Homo sapiens: one gene and its partners. The protein of the gene in region 1 interacts with the protein of each later gene in a biochemical or structural test. Each region holds a gene or a part of one and is shown on either strand. Other genes may lie near its edges.

The links. The genes of interacting proteins can lie anywhere in the genome.
Region 2: the proteins of SPARC (region 1) and VEGFA form a complex in vitro, tested with the Homo sapiens proteins (2 studies listed by BioGRID, with this or other methods).
Region 3: the proteins of SPARC (region 1) and PLG form a complex in vitro, tested with the Homo sapiens proteins (one study listed by BioGRID).

Annotation. Positions count from the first base shown.
Region 1 is NC_000005.10:151,683,914-151,691,489, reverse strand, and holds the start of SPARC (SPARC isoform 1 precursor), read left to right. Parts: upstream 1-4,574; 5' UTR 4,575-4,625; exon of another isoform or gene 4,626-5,108; intron 5,109-5,538; exon of another isoform or gene 5,539-5,661; intron 5,662-7,576.
Region 2 is NC_000006.12:43,773,211-43,780,238, forward strand, and holds part of VEGFA (vascular endothelial growth factor A, long form), read left to right. Parts: intron 1-1,130; coding exon 1,131-1,182; intron 1,183-4,258; coding exon 4,259-4,455; intron 4,456-5,249; coding exon 5,250-5,326; intron 5,327-5,678; coding exon 5,679-5,708; intron 5,709-7,028.
Region 3 is NC_000006.12:160,712,244-160,719,271, forward strand, and holds part of PLG (plasminogen isoform 1 precursor), read left to right. Parts: intron 1-742; coding exon 743-882; intron 883-2,550; coding exon 2,551-2,671; intron 2,672-4,401; coding exon 4,402-4,520; intron 4,521-6,050; coding exon 6,051-6,213; intron 6,214-6,449; coding exon 6,450-6,595; intron 6,596-7,028. UniProt on the Homo sapiens protein: Plasmin dissolves the fibrin of blood clots and acts as a proteolytic factor in a variety of other processes including embryonic development, tissue remodeling, tumor invasion, and inflammation. In ovulation, weakens the walls of the Graafian follicle.

The DNA.
Region 1 (7,576 bases):
CAATATACTGATGGATTGCTTTACAAGATGAAAAGCTGATTCAGCCTAATGTTGGATCAGCAACATTCTTGACTCGGGAGAGGGGTGTATGGTCTGAAGTCCACGTATGTCAGAGCTGGAGAGGAGTTGAGGGGGAAGTAGCGTGCAGTAGTCAAGCACTTGGGCTCTGGTGTCCCTTAAACCTGGATTTGAATCTCTGATTTACCATATACTTGGTGCATAAGCTTGAGCAAATTATTGATATGAACTTCATTTTCCACATTTATAAAATGGGAATAATAACAGTTCCAGATTTATAAGAGTTAAGTCAGACAATATATGCAAAGAGCTTAGCAGGTGCTTGGCACATAGTAGGTGTTTAATAAATGCTGGCTCTTATTACTACTATTCTGCTGTCCAACCTATTTTATAAATGAAAAGGTGTAGGGTCAGGTACAATGGCTCATGCTTGTAATACTAGCACATTGGGAGGCCAAGGCAGGAGGATTGCTTGAGGCCAGGAGTTCAAGACCAGCCTGGGCAACCTAGCAAGACCTTGCCTCTATTAACACAATTAAAAAGAAAGAAAGAAAAGGTGTAGTTCAGAGGGGCAGGGATGGGCCCAAAGTCACTCAGTGACTCAATAGCAGAGTGGGACTCACACCCAGGTCTATCACACCTGGCTGCGTTGTGCTTCTCTCCCTTCCTATAAAGCCCTTGGCAGGTGGCAGGAAGACCAGCCTTAGTCCTAGTGGTCTTCCTTTCTAGGTCAGAGTCATCCTTGCTTCAGAGGCTCCTGTTGCCCCAGGATGCTTTTTTTTTTTTTTTTTTTTTTTTTTGCCTTTTGAGGTGGAGTTTCACTCTTGTTGCCCAGGCTGGAGTGCAATGGTGCTATCTCAGCTCACTGCAACCTCCGCCTCCTGAGTTCAAGCAGTTCTGCCTCAGCTTCCCAAGTAGCTGGGATTACAGGCGTGAGCCACCAAGCCTGGCTAATTTTGTATTTTTAGTAGAGACGGGGTTTCACTATGTTGGTCAGCCTGGTCACCGAACTCCTGACCTCAGGTGATCCACCCACCTCTGCCTCCCAAAGTGTTGGGATTACAGGTGTGAGCCACTGCACCCAGCCATGTGCTCTTATCCTTAGATATAAAACCTACCAAGTTTTCTTTCTGGGAGTGATTCTGGCTCAGGGTGTCCCCACAGAGACCTGGAAGTGGCCCTCAGGAGGGATCTCTCTTCCAGAGCTTCAGCCCAGCCCCAACCAGACTTCCACTTCCTGAACTGAAAGCCACATGGGAACACCAGCCAAAAACTGGGAAGAGTTCCACTGGTTCATCCTCATCAGAATCATCATTTTAGTTTATGAATAAAAATACAAAGCTTCTGCTAATTTTAGTCCCATAATGCCTGGGAGCTATAGCAACCAATCCTATAAAAATATACATCTGTCCGGATGGCAAAACAGATATGTGGAGAGTCCACCAGCACCCTGTATTCAGCAGCCAAAAGCACTTGGCTTTTGAACCAGGGTGAGAGGCCTTGGGGGGTCTTTATTTATTTATTTAGAGACGGAGTCTTGCTCTGTCTCCAAGGCTAGAGTGCAATGGTGCCATCTCGGCTCACTGCAACCTCCGCCTCTTGGGTTCAAGCGATTCTCCTGCCTCAGCCTCCCATGTAGCTGGGATTACAGGCACGTGCCATGATGCCCAACTAATTTCTTTTGTATTTCTAGTAGAGACAGGGTTTTGCCATGTTGGCCAGCCTGGTGTCGAACTCCTGACCGCAGGTGATCTACCTGCCTCAGCCTCCCAAAGGGCTGGAATTACAGGAGTGAGCCACCATGCCTGGCCTTATTATTATTATTATTATTTTATTATTATTACAGACAGCATCTTGCTCTGTCACCGAGGCTAGTCTCAGGCTTCTGGCCTTAAGCAATCCTCCTGCTTCAGCCTCAGAGTAGCTGGGACTCCAGGAACATACTACTGCACCCGGCCCTTGGGGGTCATTTGGAGAAGACTCCTTCTTGGGTGTTTGTGGATTTTTCTGCAGAGAAAGTTCATTGCTTCCTTTAGGTTCTCAAAAGGACCAAACACCCTAACTTTTATATTCCACTTTAGTGGTTTGAGGGTCTCTTGGGTGTGGGGCAGTGTTCCAGGCTGGAACCCTAGTAAAAGACAACCCTCTCTTTTTTCAGATGGGCAAGTCGGAAGTTCATATATTTATTGAATAAAATATTGCAAGCCAGCTTTGTGTGGGGCACTGGTCAACATGCTGGGAACAAAGCAGTAAACAGACATGTGAAGTCCCTGCTCTCACCAAGCTTCTGTCTAGTTGGGGAAACAAATGGTTTCTGAGAATGACAGGTGATGGGGAGGAAATAAAACAGTGTAAGGCGATGAACTGTGCCTGTGAGAGAGGCAAGTAGATTGAGTGGCCCTAAGGAGGTGACATTAGAATAGGCACAGGAAAATCAGGTGGAAGAGTGTCTCTGGCAGAGGTAAGAGCAAATGCAAAGATACTGGGCATGGTGGCTCAGACTTGTAATCCCAACACTTAGAGAGGCCAAGGCGGGCGGATCACTTGTGGTCAGGAGTTCGAGACCAGTCTGGCCAACATGGTGAAACCCTGTCTCTACTAAAAATACAAAAATTAGCCTGGTGTGGTGGTGCATGCCTGTAATCCCAGCTTCTTGAGAGGCTGAGGCAGCAGAATCACTTGAACCCAGGAGGTGGAGGTTGCAGTGAGTTGAGATTGCGCCACAGCCCTCCAGCCTGGGCAACAAAGTGAGAGTCTGTCTCAAAAAAAAAAAAAAAATCCTGGGGTGGGAGAAGCTTTGGGGTAGTTGAAGGACTGGAAGGAAGTTGGCATGGCTGGAGCAGCGTGGGCACAGAGGACAGTGGTAGGAGGAGAGAATGGCAAGAGAGACAGGGGCCACAGCGGATGGAAGTGTATCATGAGGGTGTTCTCTGCCTTCTTCCTTTCCATGGTATTCAAACCCAACCCATGCTTCCAGGTCCACCTCTTTCAGGAATCCACCAATCTGAAGCCCTGGGATAAGCCTTAGAGTCTGTACCACTCATGTAAGTGGGTGTATGTGTAAGGCACAACCTTTCAGCAAGATCCAAAGCTCCTTGAATAGTGAGTTATCTCGATTGATTGTTCACAGTCACAGATTGAATTCCTTGTACTTTTTTTCCCTTCTCAGTTCTGCACTTAACTCGTCTAAAAAAATTAAAAAAGAATTTAAGAAACCACAAAGCTAAGCTGGGTGCGGTGGCTCACGCCTGTAATCCTAGCACTTTGGGAAGCCAAGGCATTCGGATTGCCCAAGCTCAGGAGTTCGAGACCAGCCTGGGCAACATGTTGAAACCCCATTTCTACTAAAAATACAATAAATTAGCTGGGTGTTGTGGCATGTGCGCCTGTAATCCCAGCTACTCTGGAGGCTGAGGCGCGATAATTGCTTGAACCCGGGAGGCAGAGGTTGCAGTGAGCCGAAATCATACCACTGCACTCCAGCCTGGGCGACAGAGTGAGTGAGACTCTGTCTCAAAACAAAACAAAACAAACAAACAAAAAAACCGGAAACCACAAAACTTTTTGAGGACAAGGACCAGGTATTTATTAATTCTCATACCTCCCAGAGTGTTAGGCACAAAATAAACATTCAACCAAGACCTGTTGCACTGAGCAGTTCATATATAACAGGAGTGACCCAAGTTGAAACGTAGAATCAGCCCTCTCATACCACTTTTTGCCAGGTGATCATAGGCAAGTTACTTAGCATCTATGTTTCCTTATTATTAAAATGGTCATAATTACAATGCCTAAGATAAGGGGTTGCTGTGAAGATTATTAAATCCTCAGTAAACTTTGGCTATTGTTACTCCTATGATTATCATCAATATCATCAATTACCTTATCTGTTCAATACTGGTGGCACAGGTCCACCAGCTAGATGTCTAATCCCTTATGTGTCTATTAGTGGTACAAGTGGAGTTTGAGTGGGATTTTTTTTTTTAAGACCAGTTCCAAATCATCAAGGATGATACCACTAGTAGCAGCTTGTCTTGTCTGTACAGTGGTAAGTCCTGGCCTTGCCTTTGTGGCAAATACAACCCCCTTGAATTGCTTGGCCCTTCTCAGCATTGCCTAATATTAGGGAGGACTCCTGTAAAGCTCACTGGTTAGAAGATCAAGACACTTGGGCCTGGTTCTGCCCCTGGGGGCCATTGGGTAATTCCTTGCAGTCTCCAGGCCTCACTTGCCCTCTGAACAAGAAAGAGGCTGTTCTGGGTCATCCCTCCAGGCCTGTCCAGCCCTGGCACTCTGTGAGTCGGTTTAGGCAGCAGCCCCGGAACAGATGAGGCAGGCAGGGTTGGGACGTTTGGTCAGGACAGCCCACCGCAAAAAGAGGAGGAAAGAAATGAAAGACAGAGACAGCTTTGGCTATGGGAGAAGGAGGAGGCCGGGGGAAGGAGGAGACAGGAGGAGGAGGGACCACGGGGTGGAGGGGAGATAGACCCAGCCCAGAGCTCTGAGTGGTTTCCTGTTGCCTGTCTCTAAACCCCTCCACATTCCCGCGGTCCTTCAGACTGCCCGGAGAGCGCGCTCTGCCTGCCGCCTGCCTGCCTGCCACTGAGGTATGTGTGACCCCCGCCCAGCCTTTCCCTTCTATAGTTGCACCAACCCCGACACCCCCGTTCACGCCGTCAGCTCGTGTGCAAGGGAGGGAAGCTCTGCTGAGGATGCGCCTCTCCTCCCGGCTCCATCACGGCTCCCCTTAAGAGCATGGCCCTCGGTCCTGTCTGCCTGTTGCTTTTCAGAAGGTGGACTCACTGTGTAACTTTGTCTTCCCTTACAGGTTTACAGAAAATAATCTCACTATGTCTTCGGGGGAGCATTTTCTCACTCTCTGTTTTTCTCTGTGTCTGTCTCTGGTTTCAGAGGCTGCCTGCCTGTCCTCTTTGCTCCCTTTGCAAATGTGGCAGCCTCCTCCTTTCCTGGGAATCTGATCCCATCACAGCTGCCACAGGGACCTGGCCAGCAACCGGAGTCTGTCCTCCAGATCTCGGTCAGGGGTTCTGTTTTCCAAAAGGGACTTTGCACGAACAATCAGTTGATCTCTGAAAGGCAAAGGGGGAGGCTTCACCATTAATCCACACCTCTGGGAAGCCTTCTGTTTTCCTCTAATTCTCCTCACTCCCAAACACCACCTTCCGTCCCCCCAATACACAAATTTCAGCACCATTCTGCCTGAAATGGCACCATCACAACCTCAGTCTTGGGTTAGGTGTTGTTCCTGTCCTGAGTTCCTTGGGATGGTAAACACAGGCAGTAGCCCTTAGTTTATCTAGATCTGAAAACCCAGACATCAGATATCGTCAACCAAGACATGGGTGTAATGGGAGGTGGAGTGTGCTGGGGGAGATATTCTCAGAAGGGGGAAAGGGGGAAGGGAAGAGGGAGAGAATTCCAGGGTCCCCTTCCGTAATCCACCCAAGACTAGTGTCCAGCCTGTCAGGGTGTCAGTTCTTCTTCAGACAAATCCACTACCTTTCTTCGCCGCCACTGGCTCCGTGAACTGGCTGTCAAGTGGACTTCCTTAGGGAAAGGGACTCCAAGGACTCCAAGGGAAGGGGGGCACTGGGATGAGTTATGTCTTCCAGGATTCCCAGTCTGCCCAAAAGGGAACAGAGAGGCATGCATTTTCCTCAGGAAAGGACAGCATTTTTTTCATTAGAGAAAATGTTTTCTCTAGTAATGCTTTAGAGTTAAATTTCTATACGCCCCAAGTGCTGGTGGTTTAGTGAGAAGCAAAGCAGAAGTAGGACACAGGCTTCGGGCATGCATTTTATGTGTGATCTTAGGTAAGTGTCTCCCCTGGATTTAGTGCCCCATCTGTAATGAAAGAAGGCTGAAACTGAAGGCTCTTTGGGGTGCTTTGTGTCCTCTAAAATATTCAAAGGAAGATTTCTTAACCAGGGTCTATGGAGTGGTCTTTGAATGGGCCTCAAGCCATCTCTAAGCCCCTAAAAATTGTATGCACTGTGTGTGTGTGTGTGTGTGTGTGTGTGTGTGTGTGAGAGAGAGAGGGAGAGAGAGAGAGAGAGAGGATGAATATGGGTGGTCACAGCTTTCAGCTTTAAGATATTCTCAAATGGATTAGAGGGCATGACGTGGGGATGGAGTGAGGACTGGTAACAAATGTGTGTATTTGCTGGAGGATGAAGCCTTCTGAAAAGGGAGTGGTTGAGGAAAGAGAGAGTTAACTCTCAGCTATCAGCTGCCACATCGACATAGCCTAGAGCAAAGAGGGGGAGGGAGGAGAAGAAGGGGGTTGCCTGGAGAAGGAATCAACTTTTGAAACTTTCTCCAAGTCCCACCCACCAGAAGGCTCTTCTCTGCCTGACTCACTCTCCGAGGAATGCGAGTTGCCACGGTAACCTTTTTTTCAGGGTCTCTGCCTGCTGGCTGGAGGGGACCCTTGAAACCCTCTAAGAACATCAGTCTGAACGTACCCCACCCCCAAATTCAAGGCCTGCAGCAAATTCTAGGCCCTGCCCTTGTGATCTCTCAGGATTCCGGGGAAGCCTTGGGCCATGATAATCTCCTTGCAAGGGTGTTTGAAGACCTGGGTTTTAGCTCTGGCTGTGCCCTGAAGGTACCATTTGACCTTGAACTAATACTTCTTTCTGGGCCCCATTCCCTCTACAGTTAAAGAACAGTAACAGCAGCCACCTCTAGGGGGTAGATAGTGTGTAGAAGAAATGGGATAATGCACAGGGAAGCACTTTGCGAATTGTGGCATTCCCTCATAATGCAAAGGGTTTTAGAACTGATGGATTAAAGGCATCCAAAGACCTAGTGAAATCATTCTCAGCTTTTTTTTTTTTTTTTTTTCCTGGCAGCTCCATCATCTTGGGGTTTGTATAGAACTTTCCTTTACTAGAAGTACTGACAGGAAAAATTTTAAAATCATAATATTGTTTATCTTCATTTTGATTTGGGGAACTTCTTGTGTATTTCCCAAGACTGTTGTGCCCTCTATGTAGGAAAAGCATTGGCCAAGGGTGAAAAAAAAAAAAAAAAGTGTGTTCTAACTCCCAGTGCCTGACATTGGGAAAGACACTTCCTCTCTTGAGGCTGCAGTTTCCCAAACTGTTAAATAGAGTTTCTAAGCTAGATGATTTCCCAGGCACCCTTCTAACTCTGAAGTCCTATAAACCTAAATCCCAGATACCGCTTTTATTCAAAGGAATAGCTTGCCTGCATTTTTAACACCGCCTTACTGCACCCCCAGTTGAAAAGAAAACAAGAAAAGATGGGCTAGGGGATCTTGAGTTGCATAACCATCATGCTGTAATCCTTATCCATCTGTAGAGATTTGTCAATCAACAGTGTGGCTGGGGTTTGCTATTCATGAGAGCAGCTTTCCTTGCTGAAAACAAGCTATAAATAAGAAAGAATGGTGAAGGAAAGGAAAGAGCTGAGGATGTGAGGTAAACAGTAGAATATTTGGCTTTTGAAGTTGTTTATGTAGGTAGATAAATATGCAGAGATAAACAGGGACAGGTACAAACCCATAGGGATG
Region 2 (7,028 bases), on another chromosome or scaffold:
GGGTGCATTTGGGGTGTGTGGGAAGGAGAGGGAAAGAAAGATGGACAGTGGGACTCTCCCCTAGCAGGGTCTGGTGTTCCGTAGGCTAGAGTGCCCCTCTGCTCTGCGAGTGCTGGGCGGGAGGGGAGTTGGTGAGAGCTGGAGACCCCCAGGAAGGGCTGGCAGAAGCCTTTCCTTTTGGGTGCTGTCAGGTCCGCATGTCTTGGCGTGTTGACCTTCACAGCTTCTGGCGAGGGGAGGAATGATCTGATGCGGGTGGGGAGGGTTAGAGGAGGCCTCAGGCCTAAGGTGGTGCAGGGGGCCCCCTAGGGGCTGGGCAGTGCCAAGGCATAAAAGCCTTCCCTGGTCCCTGGTGGCATTTGAAGGTGCCCAGGTGAGAGGGGCTTGGCACCTCCTCACCCTGGGAGGGAGAAGAAACCAGGGAACAGGTAGGAGTGGGAGACAGGTGAGGCTTTGGAAATCTATTGAGGCTCTGGAGAGATTTGTGTAGAGAGGAAAATGTGGTTCTCCCCCAGGGTCTCCTCCTGGGTTTTTACCCTCTAAGCAACCTGTGGGCATGCTGGGTTATTCCTAAGGACTAGAAGAGCTTGGATGGGGGAGGGTGGTTGGTGCCCTTCGGTCCTCGGCACCCCCCTCCGTCTCCAACACCAGCTCACCCTGGTATTTGTCATGTCAGCAGGAGAAGGTCACCATGTTGTTTTTCTCGCCCCTAGTCCTTCCTTCCTGCCCCAGTCCAAATTTGTCCTCCTATTTGACCTTAATACTTACCATGGCTTTGGACCAGGGAACTAGGGGGATAGTGAGAGCAGGGAGAGGGAAGTGTGGGGAAGGTACAGGGGACCTCGACAGTGAAGCATTCTGGGGTTTTCCTCCTGCATTTCGAGCTCCCCAGCCCCCAACATCTGGTTAGTCTTTAACTTCCTCGGGTTCATAACCATAGCAGTCCAGGAGTGGTGGGCATATTCTGTGCCCGTGGGGACCCCCGGTTGTGTCCTGTTCGACTCAGAAGACTTGGAGAAGCCAGAGGCTGTTGGTGGGAGGGAAGTGAGGAGGGAGGAGGGGCTGGGTGGCTGGGCCTGTGCACCCCAGCCCCTGCCCATGCCCATGCCTTGCTCTCTTTCTGTCCTCAGTGGTCCCAGGCTGCACCCATGGCAGAAGGAGGAGGGCAGAATCATCACGAAGGTGAGTCCCCCTGGCTGTTGGATGGGGTTCCCTGTCCTCTCAGGGGATGGGTGGATGGCCTAATTCCTTTTTCTTCAGAACTGTGGGGAGGAAGGGGAAGGGGCACAGGAATATAAGGATCAAGAAAGAAAGAGCTGGGCACCACGAGGTTCACCCTCAGTTTCGTGAGGACTCTCCGCTGTTCAGGTCTCTGCTAGAAGTAGGACTTGTTGCCTTTTTCTTCTGCTCTTTCCAGTAAAATTTTATTTGGAGAAGGAGTCGTGCGCACAGAGCAGGAAGACAGTGTTCAGGGATCCTAGGTGTTGGGGGAAGTGTCCCTTGTTTCCCCTAGCTCCCAGGGGAGAGTGGACATTTAGTGTCATTTCCTATATAGACATGTCCCATTTGTGGGAACTGTGACCCTTCCTGTGTGAGCTGGAGGCACAGAGGGCTCAGCCTAATGGGATCTCTCCTCCCTTCCCTGGTTTGCATTCCTTTGGGGGTGGAGAAAACCCCATTTGACTATGTTCGGGTGCTGTGAACTTCCCTCCCAGGCCAGCAGAGGGCTGGCTGTAGCTCCCAGGCGCCCCGCCCCCCTGCCCAACCCCGAGTCCGCCTGCCTTTTGTTCCGTTGTGGTTTGGATCCTCCCATTTCTCTGGGGACACCCTGGCTCTCCCCACCACTGACTGTGGCCTGTGCTCTCCACCTCTGGGGAGGGAAGGCCCTGGGGTCTTCCTTCCCGCGAGTTTCCCTGACCTAAATCTGGCGTGGCTGGGTAGTGGCCAGCAGTGGTGATGCCCAGCCTGTTCTGCCTCCTCCTTCCCCACCCCAGGAGCCCTTTCCTTGGCCTAGGACCTGGCTTCTCAGCCACTGACCGGCCCCCTGCTTCCAGTGCGCCACTTACCCCTTCCAGCTTCCCAGTGGTCTCTGGTCTGGGAGAGGCAGGACAAAGGTCTTTGTTTGCTGGAGAAAAGGTTGTCTGCGATAAATAAGGAAAACCACGAAAGCCTGGTTGTTGGAGTGTACGTGTGTGCTCCCCCAGGCAGTGGAGGCCAGCCCTCCTTGGAGGGGCGGCTGCCTGATGAAGGATGCGGGTGAGGTTCCCCGCCTCCACCTCCCATGGGACTTGGGGATTCATTCCAAGGGGAAGCTTTTTGGGGGAATTCCTACCCCAGGTCTTTTTACCCTCAGTTACCAACCCCTTGCCCAGGCCAGACCTTCCTGCTATCCCCTCCTGGGCCACAAGCCTGGCCCTCCTCTGTCCCAATTGTGATGAAGGGGCAGTTCAAAACTTCTTGATTAGTCATCTTCTCCCCTATCGACTTGGCTTTAAAAAATGACCTTTTCAGACTTCTAGTCTCGTTCACTCTTTTTGATGATGCTTTGCCGTAACCCTTCGTGGGTAGAGAAGGATTCTGTGCCCATTGGTGGTCTGGATAAAAGAAATAGAGACCTCACAGGAAGCAGTGGACTGGCCTGTTTCCCCACTGTTCTTTCTGTTTTCACACCTGTGGCCTTCTCCCCACCTTCTTCCCAATCAACCTATTGTGTACATAGCCCCCCTCATTGTCCTTTATTCTTCTGGAAAGCAGACCTTGGAGGGAGGAGTGAGGGGGAGGCTCAGCTGTGGTCTCTGGGGGGTGGGGGTTGGGAGCTGGGGTGGAAGTCCACGAAGCATACACTTAAGATGCTTTGGTGAAGTTCTAAACTTCATATTACCCAGGCTGAAAAAAGAGCACTTGTTCCTAGGGCTGGAAATGGAAGCCAAAACACCACCTTTTTCAGCCTGTTTCAGCATCTTTAGAGATCAGCCCAACCCACTTACACAGTTGAGCAGAGTTGGAGGCCTAGAGAGGGGAGGGACTGGCCCAAGGTCATACCAACTCATGGCCAGAGCCTGGGCCTCCTCACTGGCCAGGTGTTATTTCTTCCCTCTGGGTAGGGAACCTATTTCAGGGACAGGATTGCTATGTGGTAGTGGTGGTGGGGTGCGATAGGCGTGGCAGGCTGGGCCACAATTTGGAGTAGTCATGCCAGAGTCCTGCATTTATTTATTCTCAAGGGCCCCGCCTCTGTGGCCCAGAATTACCCCTTCATGCTCCAGTGCACCCCAGGCTTCGTGGCCAGCCTGGGAAACTGTCTCTACCCTGGTCTCCCTTCAGATCAGCTTCTAGAAATGTTTCGTGGCTACAGTGGCAGCACTGTTTTTTCCATGATGCAAGCAGTTTGCCCTCTTGGGCGGGGTTATCAGTGGCTGGCAGGGCTGGCACAGCGTGTCCGCCCACTGCCACCTGTGGGTTCCAGGAGGGCCCAGCCCCTGTGCTGATGCCCACCACCTTCTCAGCTCATGTCTGGGGAAGAGGACTGGCAGGGGGAAAGGTGCCTCCTCCTGAAAGGTGCCTCCTCTGTTTTTGCCTAATATAGGCTTGGGAACACTTTGATGTCAGCTAATTCTGACTCCTTTACTTACTAGCTGTGCGGCCTTGGGGCAACTTACTTAGCCTCTTTGAGCCTCCTGTTCCCCATCTGTAAAATGGAATCTCAATAGTGTCTAATAGTACCATGTGGAGAAACTTGTGTGAAATGATAGCTGTGGACTACTGTACACAGTACTCAGGATGTAGTAAGTGCTCAATAAACAGCTGTTGGTATGGTTGACGTTATGGTAGTGGTTGTGGGGAGGACGTAGGAAACTGGAGACTAGCTTGGCAAAGCTGGCTCTTCCTCCTTTTAGGGAAAGCTTAGAGCATCCCCATGGGGTATACCCATACTCAGACTGTCCTCTGGCATCGAGGTTGGCCCAGGATTCAGTTCAGCTGTCACAGTGAGGTGGCGGGATCAGATGTGGCAGGCCATGTCCCTTGGAACTTGAGTACATCGTGTGATCTCTGGAATGAAAACAGGCCTTCACCAGTGTTGATGGTGGAAAGCTTAGGGAAGTGCTTCAAACACAGTAGGAGGGACTTACGTTAGATTTTGGAAGGACTTGCCTGATTCGGAAGCTCCAAAGAGTGGCATTACAGAGCTGGGTGGAGAGAGGGGCTAGCCATCTTTTGTGTCGCCCACCGGGCTCATGTGTCATCGCCTCTCATGCAGTGGTGAAGTTCATGGATGTCTATCAGCGCAGCTACTGCCATCCAATCGAGACCCTGGTGGACATCTTCCAGGAGTACCCTGATGAGATCGAGTACATCTTCAAGCCATCCTGTGTGCCCCTGATGCGATGCGGGGGCTGCTGCAATGACGAGGGCCTGGAGTGTGTGCCCACTGAGGAGTCCAACATCACCATGCAGGTGGGCATCTTTGGGAAGTGGGGCAAGGGGGGGATAGGGAGGGGGGTAACACTTTGGGAACAGGTGGTCCCAGGTCGTTTCCTGGCTAGATTTGCCTTGTCTGGCTCCTGCCCCTGAGTTGCACAGGGGAGGTATGGTGGGGTCTTGCCTTCTGTGGAGAAGATGCTTCATTCCCAGCCCAGGTTCCCAGCAAGCCCCAACCATCTCCTTCTCCCTGATGGTTGCCCATGGGCTCAGGAGGGGACAGATGGATGCCTGTGTCAGGAGCCCCTCTCTCCCTCTCTTGGAGAGAGTCCTGAGTGCCCCCCCTTCTTGGGGGCTTTGTTTGGGAAGCTGGATGAGCCTGGTCCATGGAGAGTTTAAAAAGTCTTTTGGTGTTACCTGGTAATGGGGCACATCTCAGCCCAGATAGGGTGGGAGGGAGCTGTGAAACACAGGGAGGGGGTTGCTTTCGGGTATCTACTAGGAGTCAGGGTGAAGCCTAGAGAGGATGAAAGAAGGGGAGGGGATGGGGAGTGGTAAGAACCTAGGATTTGAATTCCCAGCCTGGCCAACCCTTGCAGCCATGTCTTGGCCTCAAGTGGAACAAGGGCTCCTTGAGGCCAGCAGGGTTGGGGGAGTTGGGGTGGGCCTGAGCCTCTTTCCTGCTAGAGCTCTTGGTCCTCCCTGCCTCCACCACCCATCCCTGCTCTGCAGAACCCCTGGGTGCTGAGTGGCAGGAGCCCCAGGGTTGTCCCATCTGGGTATGGCTGGCTGGGTCACTAACCTCTGTGATCTGCTTCCTTCCTTTCCAGATTATGCGGATCAAACCTCACCAAGGCCAGCACATAGGAGAGATGAGCTTCCTACAGCACAACAAATGTGAATGCAGGTGAGGATGTAGTCACGGATTCATTATCAGCAAGTGGCTGCAGGGTGCCTGATCTGTGCCAGGGTTAAGCATGCTGTACTTTTTGGCCCCCGTCCAGCTTCCCGCTATGTGACCTTTGGCATTTTACTTCAATGTGCCTCAGTTTCTACATCTGTAAAATGGGCACAATAGTAGTATACTTCATAGCATTGTTATAATGATTAAACAAGTTATATATGAAAAGATTAAAACAGTGTTGCTCCATAATAAATGCTGTTTTTACTGTGATTATTATTGTTGTTATCCCTATCATTATCATCACCATCTTAACCCTTCCCTGTTTTGCTCTTTTCTCTCTCCCTACCCATTGCAGACCAAAGAAAGATAGAGCAAGACAAGAAAAGTAAGTGGCCCTGACTTTAGCACTTCTCCCTCTCCATGGCCGGTTGTCTTGGTTTGGGGCTCTTGGCTACCTCTGTTGGGGGCTCCCATAGCCTCCCTGGGTCAGGGACTTGGTCTTGTGGGGGACTTGTGGTGGCAGCAACAATGGGATGGAGCCAACTCCAGGATGATGGCTCTAGGGCTAGTGAGAAAACATAGCCAGGAGCCTGGCACTTCCTTTGGAAGGGACAATGCCTTCTGGGTCTCCAGATCATTCCTGACCAGGACTTGCTGTTTCGGTGTGTCAGGGGGCACTGTGGACACTGGCTCACTGGCTTGCTCTAGGACACCCACAGTGGGGAGAGGGAGTGGGTGGCAGAGAGGCCAGCTTTTGTGTGTCAGAGGAAATGGCCTCTTTTGGTGGCTGCTGTGACGGTGCAGTTGGATGCGAGGCCGGCTGGAGGGTGGTTTCTCAGTGCATGCCCTCCTGTAGGCGGCAGGCGGCAGACACACAGCCCTCTTGGCCAGGGAGAAAAAGTTGAATGTTGGTCATTTTCAGAGGCTTGTGAGTGCTCCGTGTTAAGGGGCAGGTAGGATGGGGTGGGGGACAAGGTCTGGCGGCAGTAACCCTTCAAGACAGGGTGGGCGGCTGGCATCAGCAAGAGCTTGCAGGGAAAGAGAGACTGAGAGAGAGCACCTGTGCCCTGCCCTTTCCCCCACACCATCTTGTCTGCCTCCAGTGCTGTGCGGACATTGAAGCCCCCACCAGGCCTCAACCCCTTGCCTCTTCCCTCAGCTCCCAGCTTCCAGAGCGAGGGGATGCGGAAACCTTCCTTCCACCCTTTGGTGCTTTCTCCTAAGGGGGACAGACTTGCCCTCTCTGGTCCCTTCTCCCCCTCCTTTCTTCCCTGTGACAGACATCCTGAGGTGTGTTCTCTTGGGCTTGGCAGGCATGGAGAGCTCTGGTTCTCTTGAAGGGGACAGGCTACAGCCTGCCCCCCTTCCTGTTTCCCCAAATGACTGCTCTGCCATGGGGAGAGTAGGGGGCTCGCCTGGGCTCGGAAGAGTGTCTGGTGAGATGGTGTAGCAGGCTTTGACAGGCTGGGGAGAGAACTCCCTGCCAAGTACCGCCCAAGCCTCTCCTCCCCAGACCTCCTTAACTCCCACCCCATCCTGCTGCCTGCCCAGGGCTCCAGGACACCCAGCCCTGCCTCCCAGTCCAGGTCGTGCTGAGCAGGCTGGTGTTGCTCTTGGTTCCGTGCCAGCTCCCAAGGTAGCCGCTTCCCCCACACCGGGATTCCCAGAGGTTCTGTCGCAGTTGCAAATGAAGGCACAAGGCCTG
Region 3 (7,028 bases), on another chromosome or scaffold:
GAAGAACCAGAAATAAAACCTGCCTTTCTAGACTGTAAGTCTTGTGATTTTCATCTAAATGGTTGTCTCTATACAGCAACTCATCTCTAGAACTGAAAATAAGCTTAAATCCCTCCTCCATCCCCAATAATTCAAGCTGCATTTCAGAGAAAACCAGGACTTTGGAATCAGACAGATCAACTTTGAATTCTTGATCTGCTTCTTCATAGCTATTTACACTTAGGCAAGTTTTGTTTTGTTTTGTTTTACGTTGCCACTCAGTTTTCTCATCTGTAAAATAGGGATAATAACACCTTCCTCAAATGGTTTTATTAGGACTAAAAGAGAGAATGTGTGGAAAGATGTTAGTGGAATTCCTGGCAGATAGTTCACATGGACAAAATGGTATTAACTACAAAAATTTTTACAGAGAAAACGGTAACTGACAAAAGCAGGTGTTTGGAATGAATTAAGACCATGGCAGCCTTTTGAGGCCTTTATATTTCTCCTGACTGTGCAATAAAAATATTTTGGCTCTCTAAGACTTGGCTGTCACAGTAGCAATGGTAATATTAGCTACTGTGCCAGAAGCAGCCTATCAATAGAGAAATTGAAAATCTGACCACACAAATGCTGCAGCACCCAGCTGAAATGCATTTGGATGACAATCTCAGATGGGAATCGAGAGCATCTCCTTCTGCCTTGCTAATAGCAAGCTGATTTTTAGAATATAGTCTAAGTGCTTCTTTTCCATCCTCCCCAGATTCTCACCTGCTACACACCCCTCAGAGGGACTGGAGGAGAACTACTGCAGGAATCCAGACAACGATCCGCAGGGGCCCTGGTGCTATACTACTGATCCAGAAAAGAGATATGACTACTGCGACATTCTTGAGTGTGAAGGTCAGGAGTGGTTCTAGAAAATGTTTTCATTTCTGCCCTTCACCTGTAAAATAATTTGTTGTAAAGCCCCTTCCCACAGGGATGTTATTAATAATTGAGTAACGTATTCACCTCTCGGAAAGAAGCAAAACCCCAGAATTAACCTGAATTTTTTTTTTTTCTGAGACAGAGTTTTGCTCTCGTTGCCCAGGCTAGAGTGCAACCGTGCAATCTCGGCTCACCACAACCTCCGCCTCCGGGTTCAAGAGATTCTGCTACCTCAGCCTCCCAAGTAGCTGGGATTACAGGCATGTGCCACCATGCCTGGCTAATTTTATATTTTTAGTAGAGACAGGGTTTCTCCACGTAGGTCAGGCTGGTCTTGAACTCTCGACCTCAGGTGATCCGCCTGCCTCAGCCTCTCAAAGTGCTGGGATTACAGGCATGAGCCACCATGCCCAGCAGACCTGAATTATTTTTATTAAAATGTTACATCAACATGTACAAATATAAAACTACATCTAAACTCTAAGTACAAACTTCTTATGCTTACAACTCTTACACAGTGTTAACCCCAAGACAGGTTTGCAATTAAATAGTTAAAATAAAACAACAAAATCAATAAAAATCAAATAAACAATATATATTTAATGTGGTAGACTTTGCTGTTTTGCTGAAGCTAAGCAAGGAACCAGTTTTTAAATCAGCAATCCATTATTTGAATGGACTGAGCAATTTAATAGTGCACCTCAAAGGTCAATGCTAAAAAATTTTAAAAAAATCCTACTGAAAAAACTGTCATCGTTTCACATTTCTGGCTACATTAGTGCAAAAGGGAATAAATAAAGGTGAGATTTGTGTGACAGTGTGGATATGGTACTGTGTGACAACTCAGTTCTCCCATCACTTCCACCTGTTCGAATCACGGGGATCCTTTATTTGTACACCATGTTATAGGTATTTGCCCTTAAGCACCACCAATGCATCACTGTTATATTAAGTCTGCCCGTTTTCCTTAGTACTCCATAAAATTTAAGTCACATATTACTCTGCCTCACCATGTTACTTCAATAATTCTGAATCAAAGTTTAAGTTTGTGAATAATTTTGCAAAAAAGAGCCAATCATGCTTCTCAACAACATAAAAAGAGAAGCGCTGTCACTTCAGGTGAATATTGTTCTCCCTGAGGCCATGAGCATAAACAAAAACTCCAGACTAAAACCCTGAGACGGTGCCAGGTCATTCAGCAGTCAGCGGAATGATCAGAATAATTTCATACAAAGTTTTAAAGATCATTATTGAAATGAAGATGCCAAATATTGAAAACTCCTAATGGAGAACGTAGACTCCTGGGAATATATGCACCCTTGGCTCCCCACTGGCCTGTGCATCCCGGTCTAAGGACATGGCATCATGGAAATTCTGAACTTGGTCATGACTACAATAGTTGAGGGAGTATTGACTAAAATATGTGAATGTTACGGTTTAAAAGGAAAATGACATTTGGATTATGCTAGAAAATCCTGAGTCCTTATTGCCAATTTTATTGCCAAGTGCCTGTTGTGAATTACATCGGAATGAGAGGCAAGTCGCACTTAAGTGAGTAGGATTCTGGTTTTTACTCTCTATTTTGCTTCATCCATTTCAGTTTTCTTCTTCCTCTCTGTCCTTCCTTCCCACTCTGTCCAGAGGAATGTATGCATTGCAGTGGAGAAAACTATGACGGCAAAATTTCCAAGACCATGTCTGGACTGGAATGCCAGGCCTGGGACTCTCAGAGCCCACACGCTCATGGATACATTCCTTCCAAGTAAGTCTCACTGGGAAAAACATTCCATGTTTAATTAAGGCTCTGCAGCTCTATCAGACATTTGCTGTCATTTAGATATTTTAGCATTCCTCAAGAAGTGAACGCCTGATGTTTTTAATTTCAAAGCTAACCTCCTCCCACAATATTGCAAGTGAAATACGCATTCTTGCTGCTCAAAATATGGTCCACGGGTCAGCAGCAGGGATGTTTTCTGAGAGTTTGTTAGAAATCCAGAATGTCACACCCTCTGAATCTGATTTGAATAATAACCAGATCCTCAGCTGATGTGCACACACATTCAAACACTAATGTCAGTAATGAATACATTAACATCTGTCTTCAGAAATGCACACACACATGTTGCTGGTGTATTTTCCAAATATTTTCCTTTTCTCTTTACTCCTTGTCTTTCTTTTCCCTTTGTACCAATGAGATTCAAGTCTCCTAACCTTTGACCTATGAGCAGACGTCATGGATTTTTGAATCCCTGATGTTTTATGTATATTTACATCAATGTGTTTTTCTGGAATGAGGATTCGTAACTTCCATCAGATTCTCTAAGGGGACCACGAATTTAAAATAAGAATAAGCTTCTTGCTCTAGAAAGTCATGATGGTTCCTAGAATAAGGTTTCGTGAGTATTCTATTTCACATTAATTGTGCTGGAAAACACCTCCCATTCCACAGTCGCTTCTGGTCTTCCTCTTCATTCTATGATGACTACAGGGCCATACCAGGGCTTTCAAGAATGCAGAAGTGAGGCTGAGCCACAGATTCCACGGTGGAAAGCAGCTCTATTGAATTTGTACACCTCCCATTCCAAATAGCTAGCTTAAAACACAGCAGCTGCCATTTTCCTTCAAAGGAGAAATACAGGAAAGACCTAAGGGTCCAAAACTGGGTAAAGGCACTTCCAGGAAACCAGAAGGAGAAGAGGATTGCTTAAGCCGCTGCTGGCTCCTCTTTCCATCCTGGTAAGCATTTACAATCAGAGAGGGAATGAATAAACGCAGAGGGCCACCAGGCATGGAGTGCATCCAACAGCCCTGGCCACTGGGCCCCACTGAGGAAGGATCCAGCCCCATACTGCATGGTGAGACCCTTGCAAGAGCACAGCTTCTCCTCTTGGTTTTTCTAAGCTTCAAGGCTGGTGGGAGCAGAGCCTGGTAGACCAGAAGGACCATTCCTTTAAGCTATGAAGATGCACATTTCTTGGCTCTGTTAGGTACTAGATGAGTATCTTTAGGCAGGGAGCACTTTACATTTTAAAGACTGCTATCATTTGTGGTTGAATAACTGGAATTTGCTTACATCAATTTTCCAGATGGCCAAAATGATAAGGTCACTGATTCTGTTGAGTGATTTTTACACATGTAAACTGTTAGAAAAACAGTGCTTGGCAGCCGGGCATGGTGGCACATGCCTGTAGTCCTAGTTACCTAAAGGGCTGAAGCGGGAGGATTGCTTGAGTGAGTTCAAGGAGTTCAAGGCAAGCCTGGGCAATAAGTGGGACCCTGTCTCTAAAAACAAACAAAAAAAAGAAAGTCCTTGGAATACAGGGCCAACCTTGTTTCCTTGTTGCCATCTCTGAACACAGCCTTCATCTGATTACCTCCTCCATGCCCGACTGTGCCTAGCACACAGCAGGTGCTCAATGTTTGCTCTTGAAAAAGAGTCTTATCCATGAATGTAAATGTTCAGTGCTACTAAAATCTTTCTTGTCCATTCAGATTTCCAAACAAGAACCTGAAGAAGAATTACTGTCGTAACCCCGATAGGGAGCTGCGGCCTTGGTGTTTCACCACCGACCCCAACAAGCGCTGGGAACTTTGTGACATCCCCCGCTGCAGTGAGTATGATGCACACCCAGATTCCAGGATTTGGACCTGCCCTGTTCTTGAAATCAAAAGAAAACATGTGTCAGTGCCTGAGTGCAGCCTCTGAAAAGTGACCTACAAGTCCTATGGGATGTTATTGGTCTTTATTTTATTGCTGGTTTAAAACAGTTATGGTTATTGGTTACTGTGGGTGATTGATCAGAGCGTCCATTTATCATGTTTTTCTTTCTTTGCAACTGAAACTTCTGCCTCAGGAGTTCACTGAAATGTAGGCTTTAGGTGTTGTTCATCCTATTCTCTCTGTGCTAAAGGGAAATCAGACCCATGCTCTCTGACACATGGATTTCATTTTCAACCAGAGTTCTAATAGTTGTTTTGTAAACAAAGAGTGTCTTTGTTTACAATGTTCAGGTCTGTGGGTGTCCAGTTTTTCCACCTTGGGGAGCAGAGGGTGAGTGGTGGGGGTGGGGAAGAGTTCAAGAGGAGAAGATGAAATGGCAGACCTAGTAGAAATGATGTGGAGTAAACAATTTTATCATATTTTCCTCTCTGAGAATTTGAAGCAAAGGATTACACACTAAGAGAAATACAGGCATGAAAGGTTAAAAAGGATTCAGTGAGGGTTGGCCTCCCCTCCTTTCCTCTGACATGTGTCCTTTGAAAGCGGAAGTTCCTCAGGCATTCTCCCTTTTTATGAATATTAATTTCTCTTTTTTTTTCAGTTTCTCTTTTTGTCATCTTTTTTCCTCAAGAATATCTTGATTTCTGGATGCACACACTTTTCCTTGGAGGTGTTTTTTGCCTTCTTTCCATGGACTCTTTCCCTGTTGTTTGGCTTTTATGGCATGTTGGGTGCCATTCAGTCATGTCTACTCAGTGAATAATTTATTCTTCAGGAAAGAGAGTGGACCTTTGGTGTATGTGAGAATTCGGGGTGTGAGGTGACACGTGTTGATACTTACCAGGTAGGAAGAACTGAGCAAAGAGAACATAGAAAGAAGCACCTACCCAAGGGTCTTTCTCTGAAGGAGTTCCTTGTGAAAGGGTCTCACAGGCATAGATGCTACTAAATTGATTTCATCTGAAAACATGAAACAATTCTCAAGTGCCAAATTCCAAGAGAGGCTGAGCAAAAGCCAAGACAGGCCAGAACACCCTGCAGCCATCCTCCTTAACATCCATCTGTGCATTCTCTATTTTAAAATTATTCATTGTAGGGCTGGGCACGGTGGCTCACGCCTGTAATCCCAGCACTTCCGGAGGCCGAGGTGGGCGGATCACGAGGTCAGGAGTTCAAGACCAACCTGGCCAATATGATGAAACCCCACCTCTACTAAAAATACAAAAAAATTAGCCAGTTGTGGTGACACGCACCTGTAGTCTGAGCTACTCGGGAGGCTGAGGCAGGAGAATGACTTGAACCCAGGAGGCAGAGGTTGCAGTGAGCTGAGATCGTGCCACTGACTCCAGCCTGGGCGACAGAGCGAGACTCCGTCTCAAAAAATATATATATTCATTGTAACTTATTTTGCCCATTCAAGCAACACCTCCACCATCTTCTGGTCCCACCTACCAGTGTCTGAAGGGAACAGGTGAAAACTATCGCGGGAATGTGGCTGTTACCGTGTCCGGGCACACCTGTCAGCACTGGAGTGCACAGACCCCTCACACACATAACAGGACACCAGAAAACTTCCCCTGCAAGTAAGTCCCCTCCGGTCTCATTCTGCTGCTATGGAATGTGAAATCCCATTGACTTTGCCTTAGTTTTAGTTACTGTAGGAACGCAGGATAAAGTATTCTGGAAGAAAAACTGATCTAGTCATAAGTAAAGGAAATGAACTTTAGCACGTTTTTTCCCGTAACGGTTGTTCTCAAAGCGTGGTTCCCTAGACTTTTTTCTTTTTGGAAAGCTAAACTCACAATCACTTCTTTTTCAGAAATTTGGATGAAAACTACTGCCGCAATCCTGACGGAAAAAGGGCCCCATGGTGCCATACAACCAACAGCCAAGTGCGGTGGGAGTACTGTAAGATACCGTCCTGTGACTCCTCCCCAGTATCCACGGAACAATTGGCTCCCACAGGTAAGCAAGGGTATGGGAGCTTACTGAGGGCCCAAGTTTTCTCCTTATTTTTGTATACCAGTGGCATCATCACAATATACAGTAGCTTTGTAAGTTTAATGCTATTGTGGTCAGAAAGCCTGCCCTTATGATTTCAGTTTTTTTAGATTTGTTGAGGTTTGTTTTATGGTTCAGAATATAGCCATCTTGGTGAATGTTTCATGTGCTCTTGAAAAGAATGTGTCTTCTGCGGTTGTTGGGTGGGGTGTTCCCTCAAGGTCATTTAGGTGAAGTTGGTTGCTGGTGTTCTTCTGTATCCTTACTGATTGTCTGTCTCCTCCTTCATTGACTACTGTGGATGAATGGTGATGTGTCCAACTTTAACTGTAAATTAGTCTATTTCTCTTTTAGATCGTAACTCTTTTGTATATTTTGAAGCTCTTTTGTTAGGCAC